Regions from separate parts of the Homo sapiens genome. Here region 2 is linked to region 1. Evidence: fine-mapped expression QTL. Tissue or cell type: monocytes after LPS. Region 1 holds a variant in brackets; the other region holds the start of a gene. All regions are shown on one strand. Distances are from middle to middle.

Region 1 (8,000 bases):
TTCTTCCTGTTGATTTGATACCTTTACCATTATATAGTGGCCTTGTCTTTTTTGATCTTTGTTGGTTTAAAGTCTGTTTTATCAGAGACTAGGATTGCAACCCCTGCTTTTTTTGCTTTCCATTGGCTTGGTAGATCTTCCCCCATCCCTTTATTTTGAGCCTATGCACGTCATTGCACATGAGATGGGTCTCCTGAATACAGCACACCAATGGGTCTTGACTCTTTATCCAATTGCCAGTCTGTGTCTTTTAATTGGGGCATTTAGCCCATACACACTTACGGTTAATATTGTTATGTGTGAATTTGATCTTGTCATTATGATGTTAGCTCGTTATTTTGCCTGTTAATTGATGCAGTTTCTTCACAGCATCGATAGTCTTTACCACTTGGTATGTTTTTGCAGTGGCTGGTACTGGATGTTCCTTTCCATGTTTAGTGCTTCCTTCAGGAGTTCTTGTTAGGCAGGCCTGGTGGTGACAAAATCTGTTAGCATTTGCTTGTCTGCAAAGGATTTTATTTCTCCTTCACTTATGAAGCTTAGTTTGGCTGGATATGAGATTCTGAGTTGAACATTCTTTCCTTTAAGAATGTTGAATATTGGCCTCCACTCTCTTCTGGCTTGTAGGCTTTCTGCTGAGAGATCGCTGTTATTCTGATGGGCTTCCCTTTGTGGGCAACCTGACCTTTCTCTCTGGCTGCACACTTAACATTTTTTCCTTCATTGCACCCTTGGTGAATCTGACAATTATGTGTCTTGGGGTTGCTCTTTTCAAGGAGTATCTTTGTGGTGTTCTCTGTATTTCCTGAATTTGAATGTTGGCCTGCCTTGCTAGGTTAGTGAAGTTCTCCTGGATAATATCCTGAAGAGTGTTTTCTAACTTGGTTCCATTCTGCCTGTCCTTTCCGGTACACCAATCAAATGTAGATTTGGTCTTTTCACACAGTCCCATATTTCTAAGAGCATTTGTTCATTTCTTTTCACTCTTTTTTCTCTAATCTTGTCTTCTTGCTTTATTTCATTAATTTGATCTTCAATCACTGATATCCTTTCTTCTACTTGATCGAATCGGCGATTGAAGCTTGTGCATGTGTCATGAAGTTCTCGTGCTGTGGTTTTCAGCTTCATCAGGTCATTTAAGGTCTTCTCTACACTGTTTATTCTAGTTAGCCATTCATCTAACCTTTTTTTCAAGGTTTTTAGCTTTCTTGCGACTTGTTAGAACATGCTCCTTTTGCCTGGGAAAGTTTGTTATTACCGACCTTCTGAAGTCTATTTCTGTCAACTTGTCAAACTCATCCTCTGTCCAGTTTTGTTCCCTTGCTGGCAAGGAGCTGCGATCCTTTGGAGGAGAAGAGGCACTCTGGTTTTTGGAATTTTCTGCTTTTCTGCTCTGGTTTCTCCCCATCTTTGTGGTTTTATCTACCTTTGGTCTTAGATGTTGGTGACCTACAGATAGGGTTTTGGTGTGGATGTCCTTTTTGTTGATGTTGATGCTATTCCTTTCTGTTTGTTAGTTTCCCTTCTAACAGGCCCCTCAGCTGCAGGTCTGTTGGAGTTTGCTGGAGGTCCACTCCAGACCCTGTTTGCCTGGGTATCACCAGCGGAGGCTGCAGAACAGCAAATATTGCTGCCTGATGCTTCCTCTGGAAGCTTCATCCCAGAGGGGCACCCGCCTGTTTGAGGTGTCTGTCGGCCCCTCCTGGGAGATGTCTCCCAGTCAGGCTACACGGGGATCAGGGACCCACTTGAGGAGGCAGTCTGTCCATTCTCAGAGTTCGAACGCCATGCTGGGAGAACCATTGCTCTCTTCAGAGTTGTCAGACAGGGACATTTAAGTCTGGAGAAGCTGTCTGCTTCCTTTTGTTCTGCTCTGCCCTGCCCCCAGAGGTGGAATCTAGAGAGGCAGTAGGCCTTGCTGAGTTGCGGTGGGCTCTGCCCTGTTCAAGCTTCCCGGCCGCTTTGTTTACACTGTGAGCTACTCAAGCCTCAGCAATGGTGGATGCCCCCCACTGGTCAAGCTGCAGTGTCACAGGTTGATCTCAGACTGCTGCGCTGGCAGTGAGCAAGGCTCCGTGGGCTTGGGACCCGCTGAGCCAGACATGGGACAGTATCTCCTGGTCTGCTGGTTGCTGGGACTGTGGGAAAAGCACAGTGTTTGGTCAGGGGTATACCATTTCTCCAGGTACAGTCTGTCATGGCTTTGCTTGGCTAGGAAAGGGAAATCCCCTGACACCTTGTGCTTCCCGTGTGAGGCGACGCCCCACCCTGCTTCAGCCCACCCTCTGTAGGCTGCACCCACTGTCCAACGAGTCCCATTGAGATGAACCAGGCACCTCAGTTGGAAATGCAGAAATCACCTGTCTTCTGCGTCGATTTCGTTGGGAGTGGCAGACTGGAGCTGTTCCTATTCGGTCATTTTGGAAGTGACCACCCCCAAATTGTATTCTTAAATGGTCGGTAAATTATACAATTGAATCTTTATCAGGACAAATTTTCTTAACAAATAGGAAATTCCCTTGAAGGCCCTGAATTATCTGGCCCCTGTCTACTTTTATAATCTCCCCTTTACCCAGTGGCTTCAAATTCATGGGTCTTTCAGTTCTTCAAAATCACTCATCTCTTCCTACCACAAAGCCCTTCTAAGGGTGAATCCTTACTAAAAAATTCAGCATTGTGTCTTCTCCTCCTGAAGATGTTTTCTATCCACCCAATCTAAAGCAGGTTTCCTTGGTTATTCTTTTTGTGTGTGTGTGTGTGTGGCACTTAAAAACAACAAACAAACTTCACAGACCTTAACACAACTTGTAATTACATATCTATTTGTGTGTTTGATTTTTTCTCCTTTCCTCTCCATCATTAAGCTCTACCAAGGCAGGAATCATGTCGATCTGTTCACCACTGTGTGCCCACACACACTTATGTCTGTGACATAGGTTATTTCATCCATTTAATAAAAATGACACCTGTAATATGACCTTTCAGTTACAGACTTTGTAGAGTTAAAAAGTACCATAATTAAATTACCCTGATAATAATTTCAATTTAGTTGATGTAAATGTAGAAGTTCTACAGTAGAAGAAAAAAGGTTTTAATCCACTGTCAACTAAAAGGAAACTCATCTCTTTCGAGAAGCTGCTCATTTTAGTCTGGATTAAAATTTTTTTCCAACTAAAGTCATTTGGATTTCTTATTCCCCATTACAATCCTGGTCTAAGAATATAGTATGTGTATAATGATTTTAGAAAGTACAAAGCCTTTTATAAGAGTTAAGTGCTATTATAAATATGAAAATTTTAATAACACAATTATTAAATGAAAATGGTGAGGTAAAGCTCAATTAGAAATAAGTTACAGTGGGGCAACCTGCTTGGGTCCCCTTCCACACTGTGTGTGGAAGCTTTGTTCTTTTGCCCTTCACAATAAATCTTGCTGTTACTCAAAAAAAAAAAAAAA[AG/G]CTACAGTGATACCTGTATTAACCAATTACCACTATTTTTGTAAAGTTCACTTGTGTATGGGGGAGGGTTGCGTTAAGAAGATTGGCCTTCAGTTTCTTGTCACTATGGACTGAAGGACCTTTGGAAGAGGAGGCAGCTGTGGTACTGCCTCACTGAATATATTTAAGATTTTTTTTTATCGTGGTCAGCCCCTTTGAAGGTTATTTTACAATCCTAGTGCTCAAGGAATCCAGATCCAGTAACTTGAGAGTAGAGGAGACATCTCCTTGATCTAGGACGAACTACCTAATTTGTAGTGCCAAGAGTCACATGCAAATAAGGTATCTCTTGTTAAAAACTTACTAAGAACTTCAAGTTGGTGATAGCACAGCACTATAGCATATTAGGAGTAGGAGGCTCTTACAAGCACAGGGTTCTGTGTGATTGCACTGGTTGAATGCCCATAAAGCCAGTCCTAAGATCCAACCAGTCAAGCAGGATTATCCTCAGGTGATGGAGAGTCACTAAAAGTTTTTGCCTTGTTTTTGCTTAAGAAATTAAAAACACTACATAAGAAGACAATGTTTGAAGAAATTAAAGCCATTAAAAAATAACCAGAATTAGAAAGCATATTGATCCATTTCAGTGGCAAGAGATGTGGAAAGATCAAATTCCTTGGCATGGCATGTAAGTCACTTCATGAACTAATACCTTGCCTATCTTTTTAGGTTTAGCTTTCAAGACACCCTGTGATACCCTACTCGCAATGACTTAGTGTCCTGAATGTTCCAGGCTCATCTATGCCTTCATTCCTCTGCTAAAGCAGCTCCACGGTATGTATGGAATGCTCTTTCCTAGCTTAACTATCAAATACCTTTAAGATGCTAATTCTTTAGAAAGCTTTAATAACTTTATCCACCTACTCCTGTGTAGCCCCTACCATTTCCCCCCTTCTTTGTAGGTCCCACTGAACTCCATATAAACATTTAACAGAATATGTTTCTATAGCTTTTTAAAAATTATTTACTTATTTACATGTGTACTTCCCTCAAGCTGACTACTAGACTGGACAAGCAAATTTAGGACAGAAACCCTAACACCTCTTCTTACCCTATTATCCCCAGCAAAATTAGTCAGATGAGTTCAATAGCTGAATGGTTTTGAAACTGTAGACAATAATTTATAGTAATGTATACGATTAGCATTCATTCTTTCATTCTTAAATGAGACACAGGCATTGACCTGAAGTACTTCACTAAGAGGTACCAAAGAGTACAATTACAATACTGAATAAGAAATACAATGAATGTATAAATAGCTATCAGAGGTATAATCTTTCTTCTGTAAGAAGATATTCCTATACTTTTGTAATACCAATGGTTAGCATCTTAACTTTTGCCACATGATAAAACTTTCAAAGTTACAGAATATACTGTTAGAACCAATTCAGTAAATAATATACAATTTGTTTAGGGTGATTTCAAGAACTTACAAAAGATTATTGTCAGAAGTTCTAAATAATTTTTAAAACTAGCCAGTTCTAAAATGTAGGTAATATTCTAGAAATACAAGATGAAACAGAAAACTTTTCCAGAATACCAGCTTGGTCTTCTTTTCAGCTAGGGGAGATTAGTCATATTTGCAAATTTTAAATTTGTCTGCTTATGAATATAATTGCCATAGTGATTTAAACGTGTTCCTAGAATTAGATACAAATAAAATTTTTAAATGTTTTAATCTAAGATCCCTGTTACTCCTTTCCTAAATTTGTTCCCTCATTTTCTTTGCTTTGTTTACCATTATTTAAAACAGATTCTAAAGCAAAAGTCCCATTTATTCAGGAAGCACTAATTTATCTAGCCCAAAATGTATTCTCAATGCATGTATTTGCAGGATCTATCTGTACTCCAGTGGCAAGACAATTATATAGTTCCTAATAATTTGTTTCCTCTTATTGATAAGAAATCTAAAATTCATTAACAGATGGCCAATTTAATAAATTATGGTATAACCTTACAATAAAATGATAGGAAGGCTTTAAAAAGTATGAGGCAAATTTATACGTCTCACATGGAAAGAGGGTAATGATTGTTAAGTGAAAACCAAATTCAGAACCATGTGATAAAACGTATATTAAAAAATTATGTATGTATACAAATATTTATGTTTTGATATGCACAGTGGAAAGGTAGAAATCAAAATTTTTAACAATAGCTACCTCAGATGAATAAGATAAATATGTTTTTAAAAAGGGACTTTTTTTTTTTTTTGAGACAGAATCTCGCTCTTGTTGCCCAGGCTGGAGGGCAATGGCGTGATTTCGGCTCACCGCAACCTCCGTCTGCCAGGTTCAAAGGATTCTCCTGCCTCAGCCTCCCGAGTAGCTGGGATTACAGGCATGTACCACCTTGCCCGGCTAATTTTGTATTTTTAGTAGAGACGGGGTTTCTCCATGTTGGCCAGGCTGGTCTTGAACTCCCAACCTCAGGTGATCCGCCTACCTTGGCCTCCCAGAGTGCTGGGATTACAGGCGTGAGCCACCATGCCCGGCTAGGACTTAACAGTTTTGAAGATTCTGTTGGAAACTTTTTTACAATAAGGATGTAATATTTTCATAATGAAAATAATAAAAAAAAGATAACTTGAAAGAAGTTTTCTGCCATAAAACAGTCATAGCTCAGTATAAATGAGAATCTATATTAACAAGCTTTCCTTACTTTTTTAAAAGAAAAAGCATGTGACATGACTTTTTTTTTTTTGAGACTGAGTCTCGCTCCATTGCCCAGGCTGGAGTGCAACGGCATGATCTCCGCTCAATGCAACCTCTGTCTCCTGGGTCAAGTGATTCTCCTGCCTCAGCCTCCCGAGGGGCTGGGAATACAGGTGTGCGCCACCACATCTGGCTAATTTTTTATATTTTTGGCAGAGACAGGGTTTCACCATGTTGGCCAGGCTGGTCTTGAACTCCTGACCTCAAGTGATCTGCCCTCCTCGGCCTTCCAAAAGTGCTGGGATTACCGCCATGAGCCAACGCGCCCGGCCTACATCACATTTCTGAAATGGCAATTAAAGATTTTTATTTTCTTAGTTAAAAGACATTACAACATACATTTTAAGGGGCATTTTAATATTACTATTAAATATTAATAAAAATGTGATAAAGTCATGACTTAAAATGTTCAGAAAATCTTCTCTAAAGAGCCTATTTTTACTGTAATTATTAATATTCTGATTATATGAAAGAGCATCTTAAGAAAAACCACTAGCGAATGCCACATTTTGAGATATCTAATATTTGTATGATTATTCTTGTAGCTTGAGAAATACATACTTATCAGCCGTAAGCTTCCTTGTATATATACACATTATTTGTAAATATTTAATGAACAGTCATGTATGGATGAGATTGTGTGTAAGTATAAGCATGCATGATAACTAGTGTAAGAACATTCAAACCAGCACAGTTTTAATAATTTTGAAGATATGAAGTAGGAAGACTAAGAAGGATAATGAGGAGAATTATCCCAGAATATTAAGCAAGGTCAGATTTGTATACATAGGGTGATGCTGAGCTTGAAGAACCTGAAATATAATTTATCTACTATTTCATGCTTTTCCTTAGCCTAATATCCCAGAAGATCCTAAGTTTTAAGGTTTTAAAGAATAATTTATAAAGTTTAGCATTACATTTTTGAAAACTAATTGTTTTTTTTTCTATTTTTTTTAATTTGAGAAAATTTGTGTAATGATTCTTTCACTAGGATAGGATGACACTTTAATGTAACACATGAAATTAATCTCCGTTTTCCTCCTAAATTTAATTTTTGAGTAAAACAGGAAAGAATCTCTGATTATTTCACCTTCTGGGTTAAACCCATAATTGTAACAAGCTGTCATATCCTAGGTTGTTTAGGTATTATTGTTACCTCAGTAAAATACTCAGGTAAAGGTGAACCATCGCAGTCTGTATCTTCTGTTCTCTCTTCTGATAACTTCCCATTCATCTTTAATGTACCTGAGAGAGGAATATATAGGCCAAGAGGAATTTATAAAACTATTGAGGAAGTAGAAAAGTTTTCATTTGCCTGCAAAAGAAGGCAGTGTATAAACCAATATCCATAAATAGTTTCAATGTTTTAACTAGAAAAGTTAGGAAGAAATGATCAAGTACATTTTGGTATAAAATTTCTGGTTAAAATTATCTACTAAAATTAAAATGAGAATGGCTGGGGGAAAATGTTTGGACTAACCCTACTAGAAGTAAAAGCCATGATATAAATGATACATTTGGAGATCTCACTAATAAGGTAACCCACTTACAAATATGGAAAATAAAAAAAATAGGAGATAACAAATTCTGTTTTGTTTCTGAAATATTACACATGAATGAGGAACAGAAGAAGAACTAATGCATTACATATTTACTCAAAAAATGCTCCCTAGAGACGTTTTTGTACTCCATAGTATACCAATTTATTCATCTGGTTCACGTACCTGGACCACAGGAGTATCCTGCTGCATTATTTTCGTTTAAAAGATTCTGGGCTTCCTCATCCACAACAT
Region 2 (8,146 bases), 430 kb before region 1:
AATAAGTTGTAAGATGAGCATATATAGGAGGCAGTAACCCAAAACTGGAGAGGGGGGACTGTAACCAAGAAAGGTTTCCTAATTAAAAAGTTTTCTAAGTTAATACTAGATGATTAGAAAGAGTTCACCAGGCAAAGGGGTAGAAGGAACAGCAATTACAAAGACCCACAGAAAAATTGGGAACTTTAAATATTTCAGGGATGCTGGGTGCTGTGACTTGAGCCTTGTAATCCCAGCCACTCCGAAGGCTAAGGCGGGAAGCTAAGGCAGGAGGATCCCTCGAGGCCAGGAGTTCAAGACCAGCCGTGGCAACATAGCAAAATCCCCCCATCCCCGCACCCCACCAAACTCCACCCCATCCATCTCTTTAACAAAATAAAAACAAAAACAAAACAACAATATATATCAGAGAAATATATCAGAAAATGGTCAGCAAAGGTTTAGAGATACCTATGTCAGGCTGATTGCATGGTAGTGGATGGAAGAACTGTCATTAATTTATTAAAACAGCACAAGTTGAGCCACCAGCCTAAGGTCAGAAAACATAGCCATCCACATGTGTGTCTTAGGATAAAAGGCGGGAAATGATTGTTGAGGGAAGCTGAAGTGCCACAGTAAAGGCTGGTTTTGTAGGAGGGTGACAGGATAGGAGTCAAAGGATTGGGATGAAATGTAACTGCAAGCCAGTAACCCTGACCTGGACAGGAAGATAGTGGTCTTGCTGGCGGTGTTCAGGCTCTTTAAGTACGTTTCCATAGACAAAGAACCTTAGCAACTCTTCTGGGACCTGCTCTCTGGTTGCAAGCTTTGCCTCCCTAGCAAATGAAGATAAAATAACCTTCTTCATTAATCTTTCCAAATCCCTCGGCAAGCCACATCTGAAATTCTTTCCCTGCTCCCCGACTCCTTTAAGAGAAAGAAAAATTGTCTGGCTCTGTCATCCAGGGAATGAGCCACCATATCCAGCCCACATCTGAAATTCTTTTGATGGTTATAAAGCCTTTTATCCCAGGATTAAAGATAAAGACTTAAAATGCAAATGTTGGCCGGCGCGGTGGCTCATGCTTGTAATCCCAGCACTTTGGGAGGCCGAAACCCAGCTACTCAGGAGGCTGAGGCAGGAGAATCACTTGAACCTGGGAGACGGAGGTTGCAGTAAGCCAAGATCGTGCCATTGCACTCCAGCCTGGGTAACAAGGCGAGACTCCATCTCAAATTTAAAAAAAAAAAATGCAAATGTTGATTGGGGTTAAAATATTGCAATTTTTTTCTGACTAAAGTACAATCATAAAATGAACAAACAGCTATCAGATCCTTTCCAGTTTTAATTTATCGGACTTTGAGGGAAGGGAAGGAATTTCTTAGATCCTTACTTATTATAGGCTAGTCTTGCTTATTCTCAAATGGAGCTAGGGAGGAATGGGTAAAAACTAAGAAGACATTTCGTCCGATTTAGGAAATGTGTGTTTTGTTTTAGTTGAGGTATGTCTTATTTTGTAAGATACTGTATATATTTTTAAGTAATTATTTGAGAGCATTGTTACAGATATATCACTTTTTAGGGAAAGATTTTTTTTGCCCCAGTTTATAGCTATTTGGTTTAAAAATTTCATTTAATTTTCAGAATTTTTGCCAGACTCCTCTGCCCCAATAAAAGGCTCTAGATTAGGTGTATCTTAGGTGCTCCCCAAACCCCTGGCCACCCCATGCATACCTTTTCATTATTCACTGTTTAATTCTCTGTCTCCGAGTCTAGATCCTAAGTCTCCATGAGAGCAGGGACTATTCAATTTTGTCTACTGCGTATTTCCCAGTTCCTAGCTCAGTGTCTGGTGCTCAAAAAATGTTCTTCGATAAATAGATGATAATAATATTGAAATATTGTGTATATTTCTTTGATTTGTTAGTAACTACAAATAGTTTATTGTGTATATGTCAATTAGCAGAAGAAAAAGAGCAGTTGTGCTCTTTTTTATAAGCATTTTTAGGAGTTACTGTGCACCTTATTACAAGAAAAGTGGCCAGGAATGGTGGCTTACACCTGTAATCCCAGCACTTTGGGAGGCCAAGAAAGGCAGATCCCTTGTGACCAGGAGTTTGACAACCAGCCTGGGCAACATGGAGAAACCCCATCTCTACAAAACAAAACAAAACAAAACAAAACAAACAAAAAAATTAGCCAGGTGTGGTGGTGTGGGCCTGTAATTCCAGCTACTCGGGAGGTGGGAGAATCACCTGAGCCGGGGAAATCAAGATTACAGTGAGCCATGATTGTGCTACTCACTGCACTCTAGCCTAGGCAACAGAGTGAGACTCTGTCTCTAAAATAAAATAAATAAAATAAAATAAAAGCTTAGGCTATAAAAAACAAAATTTCTATTAACATGGTCTTACTAAATACATATTGTAGGCCGGGCGTGGTGGCTCATGCCTGTAATCCCAGCACTTTGGGAGGCTGAGGCGAGTGGATCACTTGAGGTCAGGTGTTCGAGACCAGCCTGGCCAACATGGTAAAACCCTGTCTCTACTAAAAATGCAAAAATTAGCCGGGCGTGGTGGCAGACACCTGTAATCCCAACTATTGCAGAGGCTGAGGCAGGAGAATCACTTGAACCTGGGAGGTGGAGGTTGCAGTGAGCTGAGATTGTGCCACTGCACTCCAGCCTGGGCGACAAGAGCAAAACTCCGTCTCAAAAAAATAAAATAAAATAAATAAATAAATAAAATACATATTGTGTTTTATGTTTAATAAAGGGAATACAGGGAAGCTTTCCCTTTTCCCTTGGAAGGTTCACTGAAAAATCAACTGTCAAATGGCAGACTAATAGGAAAAAAGACATACAAAATTTATTTTAATGTGCATAACACAGGGAGATTTCAGGAGAATGATTACCCAATGACTCAATGGGGTAGAGACGTTTATATACTCTTCTTTATGGGGGAAAGGGAGATTGGGGAAATGTGGCAACTTAAGGTATAGTAAAGGACTTTTAGGGGAAAATGGGGAACATACAATGGCCTGGGAAAAAGTGTGTTGAGCCCATACAGCAGACAATAGTTTGTGACAAAAGTCTGTCCAAGAGTGTTGACAGACTTCAGTCTTTCTTCCTCCAATATGAGTTAAGTAAATGAAAAATCAGGTAAGGCAAATATGTTCCTCTTTGGCAGGTCTAGTTTCTAGGCAGATAAGGGAAATTCAGAGAACGACATCATTTGGTGCTTTGGGAGAGACAAAGAATTGAGAGGCAGGAGGGGTAATGGGGAAGGTAAGAGACACCTTGAAGCTGCTTCCTCAGTTCAGCGCGGCAAAGCACCATATTTTGGGGTATCGATTTCTGAGTCCCAACAATTTTTACATCACGTTCCAGACACATTTTATGACTTTTCTTCACTGCATACTTCTTTAAAACTCATCTTACTCTATTTTTCTAAAGGTATTTGCATTAAATGTGCAAAATACTAATGCTCTAAAGAGGAATATTTTGAAATATTAAGAATTATTTATATTTCAATGTAAAAAATGTGATTTTTTTTCTAGAAATAAAATTTCAAATTCAAATAGTTGCTTTGGGGTTTTTATAGAAGATGCATATATATATACAGATATATATATGTTCATTTCTATTAAAATCAATGTGCTAATGTTCATATGTGTTAATATTAATAAAGGTCCTAGGATTAAATTTATTCTGAAATAGACTCCTAGGATTGTGAAAGTTTGAGGTTAGTCTGGCAAAAGACACATTTAGGGGAATATCTTTCTTTAAAAAAAATTTTGTTTTTTTGCTGTCTCTTGATCTCCCGCCTCACACATTCCACTTTATTGACATTATAGAAAAATTAATTCATTTCAACAGCACTTTTACTTGCATTGCTTTTTTTTTTTTTTTTTTTTTTTTTAGACGGAGTCTTGCTCTGTCGCCAGGCTGGAGTGCAATGGCACAATCTCAGCTCACTGCAACCTCCGACTCCCGGGTTCAAGCAATTCTCCTGCCTCAGCCTTGCGAATAGCTGGGATTGGTGGCACGCACAACCACGCCCAGCTAATTTTTGTATTTTTAGTACAGACGGAGTTTCACCATGTTGGCCAGGATGGTCTCGACTCCTGACCTCGTGATGCGCCCGCCTCAGCCTCCCAAAGTGCTGGGATTACAGGCGTGAGCCACCGCGCATGGCCACTTGCACTGCTTTTTAGCAGCGAGCTCTCAGGTCAATCAACTGCTTCCTTAGGTTTACAAACTGTGGGTGTGTATTTATAAACACAGTTGTTTTGTATATCCTTTGTAGAGCACGTGGTGAAAGTGACACAGGAATAAATGCAAACCTTTTTTTCCCCTTCTTTTTTCAAAGACATAAATCCCAGGAACACTCACAACCGCAGAAGGGGATTTGATGGACATACAAAGAAACTAAATTTTGTACCGCCGCAGAAGTGAAGCATGGATAAGCTCAAAGGTATTTAGGCAGTGTTTTATTTCAAGATTTGTTATGGGGACCTCCGCCACGCCCTGGTCCGCCTTCACCAGGCCGGGCAACACTGCCCAGTCCCTGAGACCCGGCCGCCCACTAGGGAGCCGCGGGGGCGAGGCCGTGGGGGTGGCCTCGGGGAGGAGGTCCCGAGAACCACACTTCCCAGAGTGCCGTGCGCAGCCCCGCCCAGCCCGCCCCGCCCCCAGAGGCCGCGGCTCGCGGGGGCTGAGGCGAGAGGACGCCAAGCGCCCGCCGGGGCTCCGCGGGGCCGCGCAGGAGAGCGCGCGTCCGCCGGGTGCTCGCGCGGGGTTGGTGAGGTTCCGCTGAGGGCGGCCGGGGCTCTGGGAGCGTGGTAACGTGGCTGCAACCTTAGCGACATCAGGAAGAACAGGGTCGAGGATCGAGGTAACGGGACGCTCGTCTCCCCTCAGTCCCCTCGTCTCCCCTCAGTCCCCTCTTCCTTTGTGCGGTGCCGTCCGCTCGCGCCGAGCCCTCCCTCACCCCAGCCCCCAAGTCGCAACACCGTCCCGTCTTGGGTCTCCGGTGTGCGGAGGAAATTCGAGCCCTCGTGCACCAACCGAAACTCCACAGCTGAGAGGGCTTGGGGCCCGGACAGCAGGAGATCCAGCCCCTGAGCAACCTTCCACGGCTTTTGTCGCCCCCATTGGCGGGAGGAGCAGGGTTATGCTCCCGGCTCCCGTAGGGGAGCTCCAGCCTCTGGCTCTGTCAGCCTCCCCGGCAGCTCCTTGACTCCTTCCTCCCAGTCTTTCGAAGAGGGGCCCAGGCAGGTGCTTCGCGGGGTCCAGGAAGAGGGCAGGCGCGGTGCGGCTGGCGCGGGTTCGGGGCCCCGGGAGGGCGGCCGGACGCCCCCTGGAGCCGCGGCCTGCGGGGGCGGGGCGAGTGGGCCACCTCCGGGCCACGCCGCGCGGGGACGAGGCGAGGAAGGCACTGCCTGTCCCCACTCGGGGGGCTTGCTGGCCGCCCTGGAGGTGCCTTCCCGGGAGCGGCGGTGTAGACCTTGTGGAGAGTGCCTCCTGATGTGGAACCAGGAACCGCAGCCTCTTTCTAGACGCTCAGCCGCCCGGTGGAGTTGTTACCGCCACGATGACAGCTCTTTACGCCTTCCACTCCGTGCTGGGTTCAGTTGGCTTGCTGTTTTCTTCAGAGAGAGCGATTTGGCTACATAGCTTGAATTTTCTACGTGTCTCGTGCTTTACTGGACTTGCACTGTTTTTCCCTCTTGGCAGTGTTTAATCGGGTGACTTTTCATAGAAAACGTTCAGTATTTTCATCTGTGTTAATGGCATAACTTTCTTCTTGACTCTGCCCTAAGCTAATGTTACCAGTTTAGAGGGATACTTTGGGAAAAGGTCCTTAGAACCTGGGTTGACATAAGTATTTTATCTGCTGGTTGCACGTTTTTTCCTTTGCATTGTTTTTCTCCTATACAAGATGGTAATTGTTGGACTCTTGGTGTTCTTTATTCTCTCTCTAGAAGGAAATCCTCTTCGCGCATCTTTCTCGTGTTCTGGCCCTGCGGTACTCTTGGGTACGCAGAGGACTGCTGCTAACAGTGCTGGCGCCTGGAACGCTGCTTGGAGATGGCGGTGGCATTAAGCTGCTGCTTTTCCTCAGACTTCCTCCTGGCACCCTTCTTAATTTGTCAAACTGACCCAGTTCAAACTTCAAACTTTTAGTCACTTTATTTATTTCGTCACTTTTTAAAAAAATTGCTTTCAAGATACCAAAATTGCGTAAGCCTAAATATAAAAAGAGGTGTCTCAGGGGCCGGGTGCAGTGGCTCACGCCTGTAATCCCAGCACTTTGGGAGATTGAGGCGGGGGGATCACTTGAGGTCAGGATTTTCGAGACCAGTCTGGCCAACATGGTGAAACCCCATCTCTACTAAAAATAACAAAAATTAGCTGAGCGTGGTGGCACATGCCTGTAGTCTCAGCTACTCGAGAGGCTAAGACAGGAGAATGGCTTGAACCCGGGAGGCGGAGGTTGCAGTGAACCGAGATCATGCCACTGCGCTCCAGCCTGGGCGACAGAGTGAGACTCCATCTCAAAAAAAGAAAAAAAAAGTCTAAGGATACTCTATTCAACTACATATGAGCACTTAGCTTCATCATTTTAATTTTTAAAGCTGCCAATTCTTTTAGCATTTGATAAGATTACTGATAATTGGTTAAGATGATATATTCTGTAATAATTGCACATTTTTTGACAAGAAACTCAGTTCACATTCAGTGAGGGTTATTTTTTAAAAACAGTATTTCTTCATTCATTAAGAAGAAAGTTAGGGCCGGGCGCGGTGGCTCACGCCTGTAATCCCAACACTTTGGGAGGCCGAGGCGGGCGGATCAAGAGGTCAGGAGATCAAGACCATCCTGGCCAACATGGTGAAACCCCATCTCTACTAAAAATACAAAAAAATTAGCTGGGCATGGTGGCGCATGCCTGTAGTCCCAGAGACACGAGAATCACTTGAACCTGGGAGGTGGAAGTGAGCTGAGATCACGCAGCTGCACTCCAGCCTGGCAATAGAACGAGACTCCATCTAAAAAAAAAAAAAAAGTTGGGTAAATTTTGATCCCACCTGCTATTTTGAAAAATGAATTTTCTTTTTTAGAGCAGTTGTAAGTTCACAACAAAACTGAGTGGAAGGTATAGAGATTTCCCATGTATCGCCTACCCCTACAGAGCCAAAATCTCTCATCAGAGTGGTACGTATATTACAATTGATGAACCTACATTGACATGTTATCACATCCACAGTTAGGATTCATTCTTGGTGTTAAACATTCTGTGGGTTTGGACAAATAACCCTTTTGTTTTTATCAAGAACTTTTGAGAGTTGTAGAGAACTGAAATGGATATTGTCATTTTAAAAAGATTAAAGAGACTATTGCAGACATCTTAAACATTAATTTCAGATAGTTTTTGTGTTTTATAAATTGAATGTTTAAATTTTTGGTTACTTATATTGGAATTCCCAAGAGTCACATTTATTTTTGTATATTAAGAACTAAAGGGCCCCACATGGTAGCTCACACCTGTAACTGCAATTTGGGAGGTCAAGGCAGGAGGATTGCTTGAGCCCAGGAGTTTGAGACCATCCTGGGCAACAAAGTGAGACCTTTCTCTATATTCCAAAAAAAAAAAAAAAAAAGAGGCCAGGCTCGGTGGCTCATGCTTGTAATCCTAGCACTTTCAGAAGCCAAAGCAGGCCAATTGCTTGATCCCAGGAGTTCCAGACCAGCCTGAACAACACGGCGAAACCCTGTGTCTACAAAAAAACAAACAAACGAACAAAAATTACCCAGATGTGGTGGTGTGCACCTGTGGTCCCAGCTACTCGGGAGACTGAGGTGGGAGGATCACCTGAGTCCAGGGAGGTCAAGGCTGCAGTGAGCCATGATTGCATCACTGCACTCCAGCCTGGGTGACAGAGTGAGACCCTATTTCCCCCCACCCCCAAAAAAAGCAAGAGATGAGGGAGGATAAATGTTTCATAAAATAACAAAATGTTGTTTTCAGTCGCTAAAATTCACTTGACTATGTCTTTTTTTTTTTTCTGAACAAAATGGTTTATATTAGCCAAAGAAACAAGAGGGAGTTGAGCATTTTAAATAAATTAATTTTTGTTTACTCATGTCAAGATATGTCTGCA

The links. PIP is the estimated chance that this variant, and not a neighbour inherited with it, causes the effect.
Region 2: it holds the start of KLHL8, and the variant in region 1 is fine-mapped to the expression of KLHL8 in monocytes after LPS (Quach 2016, PIP 0.95).

What each region holds. Positions count from the first base shown.
Region 1 is chr4:86,785,300-86,793,299 of GRCh38, reverse strand. PTPN13 (protein tyrosine phosphatase non-receptor type 13) reads right to left here. Exons shown (of 48, transcript NM_080683.3): 39 at 7,932-8,000; 40 at 7,364-7,452. Among named protein-coding and RNA genes, the nearest start is that of SLC10A6, 60 kb to the left of the region's middle. The variant AG/G (reference allele first, on the strand shown) is at 3,457.
Region 2 is chr4:87,217,147-87,225,292 of GRCh38, reverse strand. It overlaps KLHL8 (kelch like family member 8), which reads left to right and starts at 4,675. Exons shown (of 10, transcript NM_020803.5): 1 at 4,675-4,875. RefSeq lists silencers at 4,456-4,945, 5,286-5,555 and an enhancer at 5,061-5,673.